Linked DNA regions of Homo sapiens: all the other regions are linked to region 2. The links come from fine-mapping of genetic effects on gene expression. A gene starts in region 2. Each other region holds a variant in brackets. All regions are shown on one strand. Distances are between the middles of the regions.

Evidence for each region. PIP is the estimated chance that this variant, and not a neighbour inherited with it, causes the effect.
Region 1: its variant is fine-mapped to the expression of ELOVL6 in whole blood (TOPMed, PIP above 0.99).
Region 3: its variant is fine-mapped to the expression of ELOVL6 in whole blood (INTERVAL, PIP 0.93).

Annotation. Positions count from the first base shown.
Region 1 is chr4:110,162,116-110,168,904 of GRCh38, reverse strand. All of the region lies in intron 1 of ELOVL6 (ELOVL fatty acid elongase 6), which reads left to right. Among named protein-coding and RNA genes, the nearest start is that of ELOVL6, 33 kb to the left of the region's middle. The variant C/T (reference allele first, on the strand shown) is at 3,923.
Region 2 is chr4:110,194,818-110,201,606 of GRCh38, reverse strand. ELOVL6 (ELOVL fatty acid elongase 6) reads left to right here and starts at 2,992. Exons shown (of 4, transcript NM_024090.3): 1 at 2,992-3,360. The coding sequence starts at 3,272. RefSeq lists enhancers at 2,619-3,411, 5,000-5,294 and silencers at 4,326-4,955, 5,156-5,265.
Region 3 is chr4:110,048,758-110,055,546 of GRCh38, reverse strand. ELOVL6 (ELOVL fatty acid elongase 6) reads left to right here. Exons shown (of 4, transcript NM_024090.3): 4 at 3,785-6,789. The coding sequence ends at 4,209. Among named protein-coding and RNA genes, the nearest start is that of EGF, 140 kb to the right of the region's middle. RefSeq lists enhancers at 146-195, 3,358-4,557. The variant G/A (reference allele first, on the strand shown) is at 3,038.

The sequences.
Region 1 (6,789 bases), 33 kb after region 2:
CACGTACCCACTAAAGGCTTCATGAACATTAATTTAATTAACCCTCCATTTTATGAAGTAGGCTTTGTGATTGGGCATGTCTTGGAGATGAGGTTAAGTAACTTGGAAAAGGTGGGACACCTGGTGATTGGCAGAGTGAGGCTTCAAACCCAGGCAGTCTAGGTCCACACTGCCTGTCCACAGAGTCTGGGTCTCTCCTGCTTTGGCTTATGACGTCAGCACCTACTGGGAAAATTACAGAAACCATTTTCAAAGGTGATATTTTGAAAAGCATATGGTGGGGCTCATTTTGTTTAAATGAGCTCTGCACAATGAAAGCACGTGAGAGCAGTTTTTGAAAAAGTTCTGATTGCATCCATTGAATTTGACTTTTTTTTTTTTTCTTTTTTAGACAGTCTTGCTCTGTCGCCCAGGCTGGAGTACAATGGCACGATCTTGGCTCACAGCAGCCTCTGCCTCCTGGGTTCAAGTGATTTTTGTGCCTCAGTCACCCAAGTAGCTGGGATTACAGGCATGCAACACCATGCCTAGCTAACTTTTGCATATTTTTTTAGTAGAGACGGGGTTTCGCCTTGTTGCCCAAGCCGGTCTCGAACTCTGGGCTTCCAGCAATCTGCCCACCTCAGACTCCCAAAGTGCTGGGATTACAGGCATGAGCCATCACACTGGCCTGAATTTGACCCTTACTCTAATGATTTATAGCCATATAATTCTCATGCAATAAGCTAAAAATACACCTAAAAATGATTTACTCTCAAAGGGTTTTAACTTTTTTTCATTGAATCTCTTTTATGTTCACTTAAATTTTGGCTCTGTTCATAAATTGATACAAAGACAAAATTTCCACTAAAATATTAATCTTAAGTAGTAGACGTTTTCTAACTATACCTTCCAATTGGAATTAAGCATTTAATCTAAAATTATATATCAAAAATACAAGAAAGAACTTCCTTAATTGCCTGGATATGTTTCTGCCTCTCAAGGCCTCAGAAAGTTTTGTACAAACTGTTAGAATAGCCCTAATCATGGAGATAGGTGTTTTATTTTTTCTCTCCAAAAGCATAAGAGAGGTTGGGTGCAGCAGCTCACGCCTGTAATCCCAGCACTTTGGGAGGCCAGGGTGGGAGGATGGCTTGAGGCCAGGAGTTTGAGACCAGCCTGAGCAGCACAGGGAGACCCTGTCTCTACATACAAACATACATACATACATACATACATACATACATACATACATACATACATACATACATAACTGAGGTGGTGGCAGGCACCCTGTAGTCCCAGCTACTTGTGGAAGCTGAGGATCATTGCACCACTGCACTCCAGCCTGGGCAACAGAGTGAGACTCTGCCTCAAGAAAATAAATAAAATTTATAATGTTCCCCCTTCACTCCCCTCTCTGCAACCAAAAAAACATCCTTTAGTAACTCTTATGTAACCATTAAAACTATATTATAGAAGAATATATCTTGACAAAAAAAATGTATACCACATGTTGCAGAAAACTCTGCTTATGAAACAGCATGTATAATAACAAGGCCAATTTGTAAACACACACAGAGAGAGACATATTTACAGTTAGTATAAGGTTAAGTACTTAACGCTGTATGTACTAAAACACAAGTCCTTTTACTGTGCATGTAAAAATACTCTAATAGCGATTACATTTTGAAGATGGGATAAAGTTTTTATTCCTGAGAACCAGAAGTGTGTCTCAATGCACCTAATATTTTTGCCAGTGGAGAGATACTGAAACCCTGTGATCTTCAGCTACTGTGTGCATTCAGACTGTTTGGTCTTCTTGGGTCAAGTCAGCTGGTGATTACTAAATGATGAGAGTGTGCCTGACATGCAGGAGACAGGTGAGAAGACAAAGAAATAGAAGGCAATGTCCTAGCATTGGCAGACAGACAGACCCTCTGTATATATTTCAACTTATTTGGATCACAGTCTGTTTAGGAAGGCAGATGTACATGCAAAATACAGTAGAATGCTACAGAAAAAGAACAAATATTCCAGTGCTGGAATATAGTATTATAGTAACTATAGTATAGAAAATCACTATGTGCTAAGAAATTTAGAAACACTCCAGCAAAAGGCAGGGACTTTGAGAGCTAATAGTTGGGTTGATGAAAAAGGAAGACGGAGTTTCCTTTCATGGTGGTAGCACCAGAATACTCATGATGTCTTATATGCTAACCATGAGGGCTGACCATGCTGAGATTAACAGGCAGTGTTCATTGCCTTCTGGCAGCAAGGGCAAAAGTGGAAACACAAGAATTTTTTCTTTTTTTTGAGACGGAGTTTCACTGTCACCAGGCTGGAGTGCAGTGGCGCGATCTCGGCTCATTTACAACCCCTCCTCCCGGGTTCAAGCGATTCTCCTGCCTTAGCCCTTCTAGTAGCTGGGACTACAGGGCGCGTACCACCACACCCAGGTAATTTTTATATTTTTAGTAGAGATGGGGTTTCACGGTTGTTGGCCGGGATGGTCTCGATCTCTTGACCTCGTGATCCACCTGCCTTGGCCTCCCAAAGTGCTGGGATTACAGGCGTGAGCCACCGCGCCTGGCTGAAACACAAGAATTTAAGAGAATTCTTGTTATCTGAAAAGAAAGGTGATGTCTCATTATTGCTCAAGTAAGTTAAGAACAAACCAAGGTCCTAGCCCAAAGACAACAACATTTGAAGGAAAATCAGGGATATAATGTCAAAGAACACTGCAGTCCAGGGGCGAAATGAATGTGCCTTGAGCAACTTCTCTAGGATCTCACTTGATAGCAGGCTGGGATTTATAGTACCCAGGGGAAGGCTGACAGTATCTTTCCTCCAGATCAGCTCTGAGCTGGGCTTTTGTTGATAAGCTGTCCCAGGAGTGCTGAGGCTCTGTCACTGACAGAGGAGGCAGATGTATTGAAAGCAGGATCGTGGGTTGATAATTTGTTAGGGATGTAGAGAAGCCTAACTGGTTTTCTTACGTGGAAAAGACCACCCTCTTTTCCCACTTCCCAGATGTGCTAAACTCTTCTGGCAGAGGATATAGGATTGTCCTTGGGGAATTAGCCTTGGGTTCACTCCAATGCATGGGTAAATGTTTGGTTTTGCAAGGCAGGTGTTACCTGGCCAGCTCCACATACTTTATTACAAAAATCCTCCTGTTAGTTCTGACAGGAATGCATCATAATTGTTATTTTATAGTTGAGGAAGCTGACTCTCAAAGAAGTGATTAACTCATCTCTGTGTGTGATTCAGATGAGATTAGAACCGCCCAGCTCCTGAGACCATGCTACTTCCTGCCTACCACAGCCACATGTGCTACAGAGAACAAAGCTGAAGTGCAGGCTGCTGTGTCTCTGAGCTAGACAACCTGAGCTCATCCCTCCTGTTTCTTGCAGTGCTATTAAAATGGAGGATTTGATGAGCAGCAGTAGCTGAGAGGAGAATCAGCCTGGCCTGACTAAGGTTTATGTGGGGTTTGAGGAATAAAGTTGGGTTGTGAGGGTCGATTGGAAGCTTGGAAGCCAGGCTAAGGAGTTGGAGTAGGTCTGCTAGACAGGAAGGAACCACAAAATCAGGAACATAATGGTGGAAGGGCCTCCTGTAAATTGTCGATACTTAACTATTTTGGCCTATGAATGGCAATAGCACATGGTTCCACTAAACAGGTGCCCTGGTATTGTTTTCTGTGAGAGGATAATGGAGAGGGTTGCTTATAGTTTGTAGATATCTAGCAAATGGTCTGTTTTGCTAGTCCAGCTAGTCAGAAACCAGTCCTCTTTTTGAAGAATAGAGATCAAACCTGCTCTACAAGCTTATATGTTTACCACAATTTGGGTGGCATGATAAAGACTAAATGCACAGAAAGGCCACATACCACATTACATTCAGGAAATCCTTTCTTAGTTGGGTGTGGTGGGGTGCA[C/T]GTGTAGTCCCAGCTCCTCGAGAGGTTGAGGTGGGAGGATTGCTTGAGCCTGGGGGGCAGAGGTTGTAGTGAGCTGTGATTGTGCTACTGCACTCCAACCTGGGCAACAGAGTGAGACTCTGTCTCAAAAAAAAGAAATTCCCCAAAACAAGAAATTCTTTCATCAGAAATAAATGAGCAGCCTACCAACCCACCTGCCTTCCAACCTGAGTGTTTTTTTTTTTTTCTTTTTTTTTTTTTTTTTGAGACAGGGTCCCACTTTCACCCAGGCTGGAGTGCAGTGGCGTGATCATGGCTCATTGTAGCCTTGACCTCCCTGGGCTCAAGCGGTCCTCCCACCTCATCCTCCTGAGTAGCTGGGACTACAGGTGCATGCCACCACACCGGGCTAATTTTTCTATTTTTTGTAGAGATGGGCTTTCGCCACGTTGCCTCAGCTTGTTTCTGCCTTGGCTTCCCAAAGTGCTGGGATTACAGGCATGAGCCACCTCACCCGGCTGTGCTTGCTTTCTTGTGACAAATGTTCATGGCATCTTGTGGCAGACTTATGAAAGCTGAGTTAGGTCAAAGTGTTTCCTTAGTGCCTAGCTCAGAATACTCATGCTATACAAACCGTTTTACTTTTTCCTTTCCTAGGGTGGCCTTGGCTTCATCTTCCCTCACCTTAACTTGTCATCAGGGCAGCAGTGTATCAAACTCTGGGACCTGTGGATTCAGACACAGTTTCAATTCTGCCTTTGCTACTTAATGACTTGGTGAACTTGAGCACATTCATTAACCTCCCTAGGCCCCCATTTCTAAGTGTGAAATTGAGATAATCAAATTAGGCTGTAGTAATAATTAAACTAGTTAAGGTGTGTCAATGGCTTACAAAATGTCCAGCACTTTCTAGGCTCTCCATGAAAAGTAGCTTTTACTGGCATGACTCTCAGCAGATATTTTAGTATTATTTTGCTTTCAACTGAGTAATGAATTCCTAGCCAACATTTTTGAACTTCTCATTACACATTCAGAAATGTCATGTCACAACCAGGGCTAAGAACTTTTCATTGCTCCCAAATTGCCTGTCACTATGACTCAGATTTACCCACCTGATAAGGAAGATTCCTTGACCTTAACTCACCATTCGATCTTACAGTTAGTTCTCCCATTGCTCTATAAGTATCTTATGACCCTGGCAAATTAAACCACTGGAATATCTCTCTTCTTTCTCTATTTCTGAAACTTAGAAAGCCCAACTCAGTGCTGCCACCTTCATACAACCTTTTAAGGTTTTGAACTTTTAATCTTAAACTCTTCCATTTTTGCTTTTCATTTGGCAGTGGTAGATTTTCTCATATTAAAGTCAGTTGTGACTTGTATATCACCCTTCTAGCATTTTATACTCATTGATGATAAGACTTGGCCTTCATCCCAGTCTGCTACACTATGCGGTCAGTCCATAACTGTTAAATTTCAGTGACTCAGTTTGATGAATATTTATTGAGGAGCCTGTATTTGCCAGACTCTGTTCCAGGCACAAGGCCGCTGTTCTCAGAGACCGTTCATACCACTAGGACACAAACACTAAACATGTAAACAAGTATATAGACAAAATAACATTAGATGTTGCTAACTGCTATAAAGAAAATAGTGTGATAGGAGGTGACTTGGGGCCAGAGGGAGCTGTTTTAGCTAGGGGGTCAGGGAAAGCCTTACTAAAGGATTGGCATCTGACCTAGTAGCAAATGAGAAGACCATGTTAGCCCTGGGCCCATCTAGGAGAAGAGAGATCCAGATAGGACACAACAAATACAAAGCCCCCTCAGGTGAACTGTGTATGGCTTCGCACCCAAGTAGGCTTCTGCTTTCTGTTTTGTGTCTGAATACCTCAGATATTGATTGCACATTTGAATTGTAGTTTGGAGTTCATATATTCTCAGTGTGATTCTGTACTATTTTTATCTAAATGATTGGGTCTTTCTTCATTCACAGGGACTGATTTTCCCCTACATAGTCTTGGACACAGACCATTTAGTTCAAACCCCAGCTGCACCACTGACTATCTGGGTGACCTCAAGTAAATTGTTCACTCCTGAAGACTCAGTTTTCTCTTCATCAATGAGTGTCCCAATAACTGCTTTGCAGAGTTGTGAAAATCTAATTAAATAATGTCTATTAACTAGTATGTAGTAGAAGCTCAGTAAACAGTGGAATTTATTATGTTGCATATCACATTTGTGTACCTTAAAATTTGGCGTACTTCAGCACATTCATTAACCTCCTGTAGGGAGGCAGGAGGAAAATGGCAACTTTAATTTTCTGGGGAAAACAGTCATCCAAAATATCTATATATTCAGGCCTGGCACAGTTGTTCACACCTGTAATCCCAGCACTTTGGGAGGCTGAGGTGGGTGGGATTGCATGAGCCTAGGAGTTGGAGACTAGCTTGGGCAACATAGCAAAACCCTGTATCCAAAAAATAGAAAAAAAATTAGGCATAGTGGCATGTGCCTGTAGTCTCAACAACTCAGAAGGCTGAGGTGGGAGGATCACCTGAGCCTGAAGAGCTCAAGGCTACAGTGAGCTGTGATTGCGCCACTGCACTCCAGCCTGGGCAACACATTGAGACCCTGTCTCAAAAAATAAAATAAACCCACAACCCACAAGATGTCTATATTCAGCAAAATGGTTCAGCACAGCCTCTTGAAATCACTACATTAAAGTTTTACTGAGTCTGACTAAAATTAAGAAAAAATTTTGGTTGTCTGTTACCTTTATAATTAATTTTACTATGGGTAATCTTTCAATCATTTGCTCAGTTTTCTACTGTTAGCATTCTTTTAGTTTATTTTTTAACTTTAGATTAAAACAATTATAAACTAGGC
Region 2 (6,789 bases):
ATGAGCACTCCCAGGCCTTCATGTCATGCTGTTAAATTGTAATCCTAGCATTTCATTCTCTAAGAAATTATTTTGTCTTCCCTTCTGGAATGTAAGCTCCAAGTGCGCAAGAGCCCTGTTTGTCTCATTTGTGAGTCCCAAGAGCTCAGATGAGTATGTACTCAAAATATATCTGGTAGGCCAAGTGCGATGGCTCACGCCTATAATCCTAGCACTTTGGGAGACTGAGGCAGGCAGATCACCTGATGTCAGGGGTTCAAGACCGTCCTGGCCAACATGGTGAAACCCTGTCTGTACTAAAAATACAAAAATTAGCTGGGCATGGTGGCACATTCCTGTAATCCCAGCTACTTGGAAGGCTGAGACAGGAGACTCACTTGATCCCAGGAGGCAAAGGTTGCAGTGAGCCGAGATCGCGCCACTGCACTCCAGCCTGGGCAACAGAGGGAGACATCATCTCAAAAAAAAAAATAATTCTGGTGAATTAATGGTGTGGATTTAAAATTGTGATATATGCTGGGTGCCTATAGTCCTAGCGTGGAAAACATAACAAGTCCCCATCTCTAAAAAATAAATGAAATTATCATATAGGCTGCCAAATTGCTTTCCATACAGAGTCACCAGTTTTCAAAGTCACTGACAGTGCTTGTTTGTTTTTGAGATAAGGTCTCACTCTGTCACCCAAGCCGGACTGCAGTGGTGTGATCATGGCTCACTGCAGCCTTGACCTCCCAGGCTCAAGCTATCCTCCCATCTCAGCCTCCAGAGTAACTGGGATTACAGGCATGTACCACCACACCTGGCTAATTTTTAATTTTTTGTAGAGATGGAGCCTCACTATGTTGCCCAGTCTGGTCTCTAGCAATTGTCTTGCCTCAGCCACCCAAAGTGGATTTTCTGTCTTGATTCCTTTCTCACTTCTTACCTTAATTTATTTGATGAATCATTCACTTTACAAATATTTATTGATTATTCACAGGCTCAGGCACCGTGCTAAAATGGTTCTTTCTTATCTGGCCACACCTATCTTCCAGCCCAATCTTGCCAAGAGTTTTGGCCTGGGCCTTACTTCAAAGTGACGTAGACTTGTACTGTAGAGGTCTCTAGAAAGACAACCCTTGGCTGGGCATGGTGGCTCATGCCTGTAATCCCAGAACTTTGGGAGGCTGAGACAGGTGGATCACAGCCAGCCTGGCCAACATGGTGAAACCCCATCTCTACTAAAAACACAAAAATTAGGCGGGCGTGGTGGTGCTTGCCTATAATCCCAGCTACTGGGGAGGCTGAGGCAAGAGAACCATTTGAACCTGGGAGGCGGAGGTTGCAGTGAGCCGAGTTTGCACCACTGCACTCCAGCCTGGGCAACAGGGCGAGACTCCTCCATCTCAAAAAAAAAAAGAAAAAGAAAAAAGAAAGACAACCCTTAATGGGGGAGATGAGGACAGTCCCTACACAGAATCTTTGGCAGTGTCAATGTATACATTAATTTGCTAATCAACTAGGCTAGCCCTTTAATCTATATATTGTACTGGATTTTAAAAATTATTTCTTTACTTTCTCATTAGACCTTCCTCTTTTTTTTTTTTGTTTGTTTGTTTGGAGACAGAGTCTCCCTCTGTCGCCCAGGCTGGAGTGCAGTGGCAGAATTTTGGCTCACTGCAACCTCTACCTCACGGGTTCAAGCGATTCTCCTGCCTCAGCCTCCTGAGTAGCTGAGGTTACAGGTGCCCGCCACCACGCCTGCCTGATTTTTATATTTTTAGTAGAGACGGAGTTTCACCATGTTGGCCAGGCTGTTTTGAACTCCTGACCTCAGGTGATCCGCCCACCTCGGCCTCCCAAAGTGCTGGGATTACTTCTGTGAGCCACCACCGCGGCCGGTCCCTTCCTCCTTTAAAAATTTTTCTCCCAGTTCCCACTTTTTGTGGGTTAGAGGCATCTAAATTGAATGAAAGTACCCTTTTTGGACTACTGGGGAGGTGGGGGGATGTTCTCAGAAGGGGAATTTTCTTTCTGGTCCTAATATCCACCTAATTTTTAAAAGCAGGGCTCCTTATTATTTTGTAAAGTTTACAATTACATCATTAGATACTTCCATGTCTCATATTTCATTTTTCCAAACTCTTGGGGGAAATGAGTGGAGGGATGGATGGAATAGAAAATAGTTTTTCCTCTTGGAGGCTGAGGGCCCAGTAGGGGTCAACAGTACATTCAGCCCTCTCCTCACATATTCTGTTCTACCTACAAGTACAGCAAGTAAAGCCAAATTTCTCATGCATGCAAATAAAGTTTTTGCATTTGGCCAGTCGGTCCAGTTCTCCTGTCAGCTTCCTTCCCCACTCTGCCTCTGTTCATTAATCCCCCCCTTCCCGGTACCTAAACCCTCCACCTAACCCAGCCCTTTCTTCCACTTCCGGCTACTAGCCTCTCTCGCCTATCCACTATCCTCACACTCAGCATCCCCTGTCTGTACGAGATTAAGGAGCTCTGCCGTCCGCAGGGCCTGGGTTAGCGTGAATCTAAGCCAGAGCTCCCGGGTGGGGGTGGGGGTAGGGGTGGGGGTGGTCCCAGAGGTAGGGCGAGGAGGTGGGAAGCGTATTCCCTTCACTGGTGATCTCAACGTAGATTTGCCCGGAGTTCTCTTGCAAGAGAGCTGGCAGGTTTTACTATTTCCCAATCGTTTACTCGCCAAGCTCTCGGGTCCACGCGCCGCGGGGATGCGCCCTGCAAGCTGAAACTTCATTCAAAGCAAGGCGGCCCACGAGGTTGGGCTTAGGGGATCTGGATGACCTCCAGGCCACTTCCTTTCTCTCTGCGCCCTTCCCCCACTCTTCCAACCACCTTCGCTGTAAACAAAACTGTCCCCCCCGGGCGGAGAGAGGTCGCGCTCTTTCGCACACTCCCTCGCCAAGGGTTAATTTCTCAAATCGCACGAGGGGGAGGAGATTTCCCTGTAGACGAGTAAAAAGGGTGATGGACAAACGTGCGGGCACTAAGACCGCAAGGCATTCATTTCCTCCTACGGTGGATGCGGACGCCGGGAGGAGGAGAGCCCCAGAGAGAGGAGCTGGGAGCGGAGGCGCAGGCAATGCTCAGCCCTGGATGTAGCTGAGAGGCTGGGAGAAGAGACGACCGCTGGAGACCGAGCGGCGTGGGGAAGACCTAGGGGGGTGGGTGGGGGAAGCAGACAGGAGAACACTCGAAATCAAGCGCTTTACAGATTATTTTATTTTGTATAGAGAACACGTAGCGACTCCGAAGATCAGCCCCAATGAACATGTCAGTGTTGACTTTACAAGAATATGAATTCGAAAAGCAGTTCAACGAGAATGAAGCCATCCAATGGATGCAGGAAAACTGGTACGTGATGCTTTCGCCTGATACTGTTCCCGGGAGCCCTGCGCGTCTTCCCGGAGTGCCTTAATGTCGGTATTCCCTGCCTGGGCGTGAATGGAGCGATGAATCGCGGGCAGCCAGCTGATCGCTGAGTTCTCGGGTCTCCCGGGTGCAGGAGACGCTGGGGGGGGGGGGGTACATGAAGCGCGAGGTCTGTGGGTGCCCCTGTGTGAACCGCGGCTACATAGGCATCTTTTATATAGATTATATAACACAGAACATATGTGTGTGCACAGGGTGATGTCTGCGCGACAGGGAAGGCGGGAGAGATGCCACAGTCCAGATCGCCTACCTGTGCTCCCCTCCCCTCCCCCGGTTTTCATCTAGATTTGGGTTTTCTCGCTTGGCCTCTCCCGCAACCGGAGTGTGAAAGGCAGTGGAGGGAGGACCTTGTCTCCTGTTGCCTTTAACCCTCTCCCGCCCGCCGCCCTTGGCCCTGGTCCTCGCTGTCTCTCCATCCCTCGTGTCCTTCCTTTCTCCTTGCAGCGCTCCTACTTCACCGTCCTCCTCTGTCTGCCGCTCCTCAGGCGGATGCCCCCTTTTTAGTACCCCTTTCCCCACGCGGTTCCCTTTCCGGTTTCATAGAGAGACCGGGTGGGAGGGAGGAGGGGACAATGAAAACAGTAATAAATGAATGAACCCGAGCGAGTGGAGCCACGCCATTATTAAGTTTCTGTTTTACGGAAACGCCTTTTGGACACACTTCTAATTCTGTGCGTAGCTGCTGATTGGAGTTCAGGCACACAGATTAAAAGCCCCTCCGTCTGCAGAGTCCTTAGGGGCTCTTCCCTAGGAAACTAATAATCAGGGAAAACACCTTTCTTGTTTACTGTAGTCCCCCCGCCAGACCTTTTGAAAATCCCTGTGTGGGAGGCGATCCAGTGTCACCTTGCAATATTTAACAGAGGAGGGTGTGCTCATCTCGCTTCTTGTAGACAGGGTTGTGGCAGAGGCATTCCTCTCCTCCCCTTAACTTCGGGTCTGGCGATCTGTAAAGTTCAAGCCCAACGCACCCCGGAGCTAGGCAAGGGGCCGGCAGCCCGGGGGATGGCTTGACCGGGGAGGGTCGGGCCGCAGGGTCTCCCGGGAGCCGGGGGATTCCGCCCGCCGCGTGCGCGAGCGCGCGTGCCCCGCGCCCTCCCGCCTGCCCTCTTCAACTGGAAACCAGAAACGCCGGCGCGCCTGTGGCCTGGGCGGGTTGGTGCAGTAGGAGCTGGTGCCACGGGGCCGCAGCTGCGAAAAGGGGGTTTCAACTTCCTGTCCTCCAGCCCCCTGGAGTCGCCGGCCAGTGTCGGGAGGCCCGGCCGCCGCTTCCTTCTCCTCCCGCCCGGCCGGAGCGCGCCCACTCCCAGCTTCCCGCGGGCTGGTCCGGGCCCCAATGGCCATTTGCGGCGGCTGCCGGGCGGAGCCCGCCTCCTGGGCCGCGCGCACCGGCGGGGCAGGCCTGCTTGGGGTGAGCTGCGGCGTGGCTGGTGGCGGCGGTGGGCTAGGGGCCCAAGGGCCGCGTCTGGCCCGAGCCGGAGCCTAAGAGGCGGGGACGCGGGCCGCTCGGAAGGACTGGAAGTGCAGCAGCCACACAGGCACAGGGCTGGTGCCCTCCCGGGCCGCTGAGGCCAGGGGGTGCAGGGGTGGGTCCGGAAGGAGGTTGGACACTAAGGGTCGAGACCGCAGATAGACCTCGGCGTTTCGGGGCAGCCGAGGCCCCTCGAGCCCCACCGCCCGGGGTCCTTCTCTGGATGCACTTCCTCCTCCCGCTTAGGGGGTGGTGCTGGAGGCGGGGAGGGGGCGGTGGCCGGAGCCGGCGGGCGCCGGAACCGCGCTGCTGGCTAGCCCCGGGCCCGGGTCTTCTCCGCACATGTTTGTCATATCCTCCAGCCGGCCTGTTCGGGCCCACAGTCCTCCCGCATTAGCCTGTGTGGTCAGTGTGGTCAGCATTTGCTTCTGTGCCGAATCTCTGACTTGCTGCGTCCTGGTTTAACCTGCTCTTCCGGAGTCCGCTTTCCCTCGCTTTGCTGGCTGACCCCATTCACTGTACGCCCGCCATTCCTAGCCCACTGCAGTCGATACTGCCTCTTATTTACTTGTTGCTTTTTCTCTGAGGCCACTTCCTAGGCCTGCTTCAGGTACCATTTCCCGCCTCTTCTCTCCATTCACTCAGTACTGAGCCAGACAGGTCTCAGCCCTCGTGGGACTGAAAATGACAAAAATGTGCCAACGTATCTACTCCTGTTAGGTTCTGACCACTGTTTCCTCCTAGTTCTTTATCTGTACCTTTCTTCTGGCAATATCCTTTACTGTTATATACATGGTTATTAACTTACAGACCATCAGCTCTTCAGGTTACGGTTCTTGTCATCCCACTCTTGATTCTGCAAAGCACCTAGCAGAGTGCTTTGCATAAGGCACATTCTTGAGAAAATGTCCAGTGAGTTGAAATGGTGATTGGTGCCCATTTTATTGCCAGCACTACTCGTTAATACCCGAAGGTTAACAGGCTAGAACTTGCATACCGTGGCAGAGTCACATCTTGGGATTTTTCCCTTCCTGGCTTCTGCTCTCTGTTGATGTTATGTTCTTAGATTGCTTATTGCAGTCAAAGAACCCTGCTGGCTGTTACCCCTCCCTTGCAACTCTTCCTGACCCTAATTGTCTTACTTTCATGTTTTTTTTTAAATGCCAGATTTTGTGCATTTCTCCCAATATCCCAGGGTGCCCAATTTTATCTCTCCTCCCTCCCCAAAAACTGTACAGCCAAAAAGACTTTAAACACTTTTTAAAATTTAATTTTATTAGCCGGGTGTGGTGGCTCCTGCCTGTAATCCCAGCACTTTGGGAGGCTGAGGTGGGTGGATTACCTGACGACAGGAGTTCGAGACCAGCCAGGCCAATATGGTGAAACCCCATCTCTACTAAAAATACAAAAAAATTAGCCGAGCGTGGTGGCGGGTGCCTGTAATCCCAGCTACTCGGGAGGTTGAGGCAGGAGAATTGCTTGAACCCGGGAGGTTCAAATTAAAGCTTTTAGTTTTTATTTTTAATAGAATCCAGCTAATGCAGGACAAAAAGTCTTGAACCAGATTTTCTTTTCACTCCCTTTTTAATAGGAGAAGGGAACTCCATAACCAAGGCTTAGACCCTCTTGAGGAGAGAGGAACTTGAGGAAACCATAAAATCTTACCTTTTTCAGACTCATTAACTTAAAATGGTTTGAAATAGCTTCTGGAGGAAAAACATGATATAGTGAAGCTTCTACTCTGTCTTTTGGGAATTTATGGTTGTCCTTATAAATCTCTTCTTAGTAACAGGCAAAACTTGTTAATTTAGAGAATTAAAACATCCTCTCTCAAAAGTGAACTACATTGGCTTTTGAAGAACTGTGAGAATGGCCAGGAG
Region 3 (6,789 bases), 150 kb after region 2:
ACACTTGGGTATAAGGAACAACATGCCCTGCCTGAAAGCTGTCTCTTGAATGAAAATAGTTGGACCAAAGGTTAGAGAAATCATGATACAGAGAACATGAGCCAGGAGGTAGCTAAAATGACAGGACTGAAACGTTCGAGAGTCTAAAGTCCCATTGCTTGTACTTGGCCAATGTCCTTCCCGTTATGCCAACAGGACATTTGAACAAGAAAGATTGACTGACCAACTCAAATACACAGTCCCTCTGATAGTTAACATTTCTGGGTCACTCTATAGCTTCTGGAAAGCCTGAAATTACCATGACTTGGCATGACTCTGGCTCATGACAAATTAAATGTGACATTATGTGGTTTCCCCAGAGGAAAAATAATTTGTACCTGCCAGAGTGGCCTGACTGATGCATCTCAGCTGCCATATCCAAGACCGTGAGAGGACTTGGTTAGCTCTTCTAGAGCCCCACCAGTTTCCCCCTGCCTGAGGGAAACTACCACTCTTTGGGTCAGCAGTCTGGGGGATAGTAACCCTGATAGGGTGTTGAATGGTGCTACTGATCAGCTCCAGAGCCATTGCTGGGAGATGATCAATTTCATTCCCGCACCCACCATCGTGCATATGTGTTCTGGAAAAAACTCCTAAGCAAATTTAAATTAATTTTGTTCTTGAGATTTCGGGACATGTTTTCCCCTCCTCCTACCCTCCACTCCACTCCCCTCCCTAAAGTAACTAGAAACACCCAGTGTATCTCAGTTAAACCTGAGATATACCCTCACCTCCAGACAGGAGAAACACAAAGCCATTCTTAACTCCAGAATTGTACCTTCCACTTTCCATCCCACACTAGCCCATTCTAATATGGTTTTTCTTAATCATTCTTTAGACAATAAAATTTTAATATAAAAGTGATGATAGGGTTAAACTAAAGAGTTAGGATGAAATGCATATTACTTTGACAAATTTATTATAATGTGTTTGGAATTGTATAGGGGTTTATATTTTAGTTAATGCTAAGAGACTCATGAAAGCATCTATTCAATTATGAATGACTAAACTTGTTTTAAACATACAGTATCTTGGACATCTACCTTCTTTACACTATGAACCAAGGTAGCTGGAATTGATTGTGTCTGCGTTATTGTCCACAGAGGGATTGGAGGAACAGAGTAGTACTTATACAGAAACGGTGGATCTCTGACAGATACAAAAATAGCACAGTTTAACACTGAAAAGTAGATCCCGGGTCTCCTGACACCAGTTTTGTCCCTTAAGTATATGTATGAGGGTTACCATCATCATCCATCATTATCAGTCTGCCTGACACTTATAGACACCATAAAAATCTGGCATCTTGCAAGAGAGAAGATGACTTCAACAAAAATTTGACAGTAGGTTCAGAAATATAACAACTGACAACTTTCCTATTTATTTAATTAATTTATTTATTTTTTGAGATGGAGTCTTGCCCTGTTGCCCAGGCCTAGAGTGCAATGGCATGATCTTGGCTCACTGCAACCTCCGCCTCCCCAGGTTCAAGTGATTCTCCTGCCTCAGCCTCCTGAGTAGCTGGGATTACAGGTGCCTGCCACAATGCCCAGCTAATTTTTTTTTTTTGAGATGGAGTCTCACTCTGTCGCCCAGGCTGGAGTATAGTGGCACAATCTCGGCTCACTGCAAACTCCACCTCCCGGGTTCATGCCATTCTCCTGCCTCAGCCTCCAGAGTAGCTGGGACCACAGGCACCCACCACCACACCTGGATATTTTTTTAATTTTATAGTAGAGATGGGGTTTCACCGTGTTAGCCAGGATGGTCTTGATCTCCTGACCTTGTGATCTGCCCACCTCGGGCTCCCAAAGTGCTGGAATTACAGGTGTGAGCCACCGTGCCAGCCTAATTTTTGTATTTTTAGTAGAGATGGGGTTTCGCCATGTTGGCCAGGCTGGTCTCGAACTCCTGACCTCAGGTGATCCCCCCGCCTTGGCCTCCCAAAGTGCTGGGATGACAGGTGTGAGTCACCACACCCGGCCAACTTTCTTTTTCTATTGTAAACAAATATGAAATAATAGTGTTTAACAGTTTAGTAGGAAAATAAACCAATAGCTCTCCTAATGCATGGAATGGGGCACCACCTGTATCTTTCCAGCCACTGCCATTAGAACCTTAGAAGTCTTTCCCCATAGTCCAGCATTCTTTGACCTTGCTGAGTGCAAGCGTTTTAGGCCATCTGTGAAGTACATGAGGGATAAGGTAGGAATAAGTACTAGTTTTTCTTTGTTTTGTTTTGTTTTGTTGCGCTTAATTAAATTTCAGAAGAAGAAGAAGAACCAGGGCCGGGTTCTCAGGGCGGTGGCTCACGCCTATAGTCCCAGCACTTTAGGAGGCCGAGGCTGGTGGATAGCTTGAGCTCAGGAGTTCAAGACCTCATCTCTACTAAAAAAGTTTTTTTAAATTAGCTGGGCATGGTGGCACATGCCTGCAGTCTCAGCTATTCCTTAGGCTGCAGTGGGAGGATCACTTGAGCCCAGGAGATCAAGTTTTCAGTGAGCTGCGATGGCACGTAGGTGACAGGGCAAGACCCTGTCTCAAAAACAAACAAAAAATTAAAAGAACCTTCTAGCTTTTGTTTTTTACACAAAAAGAAGCCAGGTTTGAGTTCACCAAAGGTCATGAAGGATGTCGATTTTTCCCATGTCTCATAACCATAGAGATAGGAAGGAGAAAGACGCATTCACCTGCATTAGCCTGTTTCTGTCACACATCCTAGCGTAACTTCCCTTATTTTCTTACTCGCTAATGTAATTGGGTATATTTTTCACTGGGCTTGCTCTTCATCCAATTTTACATAAATGTTCTACAGTCTATTTTCAGAGCCCTGAAACTTTTCAGTGAAGCATTGCAGATACATAGCATCTACCCACCTCAGCATAATTCTAGCTTTCATAATATAAATTCCCTGCCTCAGAAGCTATGGTCTTTTCCTTCAAAGGGATATTGTTAGACAAAATTTTGATAGATCCTGGAAATCTTTTCAGTTAATTCT[G/A]TAAAATGAAAACTGTTATTTTCAATTGCTCCTCACTTGATTCACTGGTATAAAATATTCCTATTACCCTTGTCAGCAAATGTGTATAGAAGAGGATTTTTGTCCCCCTTTTTCTGTCTTTTGTTTAGGTTTTACTTTTCTCACTGCCATTTGGCAAGGCTGTGTAATTTAGGGAGCTCACAAAGATATATGTTTGAGGGGTACCTTTTATCATGTACCAAAGAAAAATTATGGTTTTACTACTCTAGAGAAGCCTTAGAACATTTTGCTGGGCACTTGACTTCCAGTCTGTTTCCTTTGATTGATAAATGATCTAAGACAAGTCACCAGTCCCCTCCAGGTGGTATTTCCTAAAATGTATAGTTGAGTTGGGAGTTGGCAACATAGTTGTTAATGTCCCTTCCAGATCAATGATGGATAAGATTTTGTGTGAAATACCTTGAAAGAAACATTTGCTGCTTGCCTCCTGTGTGTGAAGAGAGCCATGCTGATTATCCTACTTAATCCTCAGGTGATTCCATGCTACTCTTTTAAATTATCACCATTTATATAGATGAGGAAACTAGAAATAGTGAGGATAACTAACTTGTCCAGGGTCACAGAGCTAGTAAGTACCAGTTCAGGGTTCTAATCCAGTCTATGTAACTCTCCAGTCCTAGCTCAGGATGTCTACCCTCTTACAAAACTGTAAGTCATCGTTACTGGTGGTCAAGGATCTCACGTACCTTCTTCCTCTTTGTCTTCCAGGAGATACAATATTCATTATTCTGAGGAAGCAGAAGCTGATCTTCCTGCACTGGTATCACCACATCACTGTGCTCCTGTACTCTTGGTACTCCTACAAAGACATGGTTGCCGGGGGAGGTTGGTTCATGACTATGAACTATGGCGTGCACGCCGTGATGTACTCTTACTATGCCTTGCGGGCGGCAGGTTTCCGAGTCTCCCGGAAGTTTGCCATGTTCATCACCTTGTCCCAGATCACTCAGATGCTGATGGGCTGTGTGGTTAACTACCTGGTCTTCTGCTGGATGCAGCATGACCAGTGTCACTCTCACTTTCAGAACATCTTCTGGTCCTCACTCATGTACCTCAGCTACCTTGTGCTCTTCTGCCATTTCTTCTTTGAGGCCTACATCGGCAAAATGAGGAAAACAACGAAAGCTGAATAGTGTTGGAACTGAGGAGGAAGCCATAGCTCAGGGTCATCAAGAAAAATAATAGACAAAAGAAAATGGCACAAGGAATCACACGTGGTGCAGCTAAAACAAAACAAAACATGAGCAAACACAAAACCCAAGGCAGCTTAGGGATAATTAGGTTGATTTAACCCAGTAAGTTTATGATCCTTTTAGGGTGAGGACTCACTGAGTGCACCTCCATCTCCAAGCACTGCTGCTGGAAGACCCCATTCCCTCTTTATCTATCAACTCTAGGACAAGGGAGAACAAAAGCAAGCCAGAAGCAGAGGAGACTAATCAAAGGCAAACAAAGGCTATTAACACATAGGAAAAAATGTATTTACTAAGTGTCACATTTCTCTAAGATGAAAGATTTTTACTCTAGAAACTGTGCGAGCACAACACACACAATCCTTTCTAACTTTATGGACACTAAACTGGAGCCAATAGAAAAGACAAAAATGAAAGAGACACAGGGTGTATATCTAGAACGATAATGCTTTTGCAGAAACTAAAGCCTTTTTAAGAAATGCCAGCTGCTGTAGACCCCATGAGAAAAGATGTCTTAATCATCCTTATGAAAACAGATGTAAACAACTATATTTCAACTAACTTCATCTTCACTGCATAGCCTCAGGCTAGTGAGTTTGCCAAAACCAAAGGGGGTGAATACTTCCCCAAGATTCTTCCTGGGAGGATGGAAACAGTGCAGCCCAGGTCCCATGGGGGCAGCTCCATCCCAGAGCATTTCTGATAGTTGAACTGTAATTTCTACTCTTAAGTGAGATATGAAGCATTATCCTTTTGTTCAGTTGCCCCGGGCTTTTGAACAGAAGAGTAAATACAGAATTGAAAAAGATAAACACTCAACCAAACAATGTGAAAACGGGTTCTGTAGTATTTGTAAAAAGGCCCGGCCCAGGACCACTGTGAGCTGGAAAAGGGAGAAAGGCAGTGGGAAAAGAGGTGAGCCGAAGATCAATTCGACAGACAGATGGTGTGTATGCCCCTCCCTGTTTGACTTCACACACACTCATAACTTTCCAAATGAAACCCCACAGTATAGCGCATATTTTCGATATTTTTGTGAATTCCAAAAGGAAATCACAGGGCTGTTCGAAATATTGGGGGAACACTGTGTTTCTGCATCATCTGCATTTGCTCCCCAAGCAATGTAGAGGTGTTTAAAGGGCCCTCTGCTGGCTGAGTGGCAATACTACAACAAACTTCAAGGCAAGTTTGGCTGAAAACAGTTGACAACAAAGGGCCCCCATACACTTATCCCTCAAATTTTAAGTGATATGAAATACTTGTCATGTCTTTGGCCAAATCAGAAGATATTCATCCTGCTTCAAGTCAGCTTCAGAAATGTTTTAAAAGGGACTTTAGCTCTGGAACTCAAAATCAATTTATTAAGAGCCATATTCTTTAAAAAAAAAAAGCTGGATAATATTCTCTGTAATATTTCAGTCCTTTACAAGCCAAATACATGTGTCAATGTTTCTAGTATTTCAAAGAAGCAATTATGTAAAGTTGTTCAATGTGACATAATAGTATTATAATTGGTTAAGTAGCTTAATGATTAGGCAAACTAGATGAAAAGATTAGGGGCTTCCACACTGCATAGATTACACGCACATAGCCACGCATACACACACAGACACACAGATGTGGGGTACACTGAACTTCAAAGCCCAAATGAATAGAAACACATTTTCTGGCTAGCAGAAAAAAACAAAACAAAACTGTTGTTTCTCTTTCTTGCTTTGAGAGTGTACAGTAAAAGGGATTTTTTCGAATTATTTTTATATTATTTTAGCTTTAATTGTGCTGTCGTTCATGAAACAGAGCTGCTCTGCTTTTCTGTCAGAGATGGCAAGGGCTTTTTCAGCATCTCGTTTATGTGTGGAATTTAAAAAGAATAAAGTTTTATTCCATTCTGTGTGAATGGTTTGAGCAGTGAACAAAGAATCCATGCAAACCAAGTCATGACTGGAAGAAATGGGGAGTGGGGGACAGTGCAGGGGAGGAAAGCTGTTACATCTATGTTAAATGATTGTGAGCAGTCTATAATGTCTTGATGTTGGTTCATAGGTGAGACACAACTGATGGAGGAATGTATTATAAATTATGCAAAATCTGACATGAGCTGAAAAGACAGGTCCTTTTATAAGAGCTAATAGATGCTTAGGATGCAAATGTTATTTTGAGCTTCGCAAATACATGATACCGTGCAATAAGCCTTTTTTCCTTATAACAGAAAATGAGAATAATTAAAATGAGGAGAAGGCCACATAACAGTTGACTTGAATTTAATTGAAGGACCCATTGGAGGCTCATCTGGTTGATTTAATTATTTAATTGAGTGATTTATTGCAGATCTCTTAATGCAGGTTAGAAACGGAAGTGAGCATAAACCTTAAAAAGACTCTAAATGATGCTTCCAAAGCACTTTCATTTTGGTATTAGGTTCATGTTTGTTTGTCTTTACTTGTAAAATAATTTGGAATTTTTGTTTACAGGGTGAATGTCTTAATAGTTTTAAAATTAGCTAAATATATCTAAAGGCAT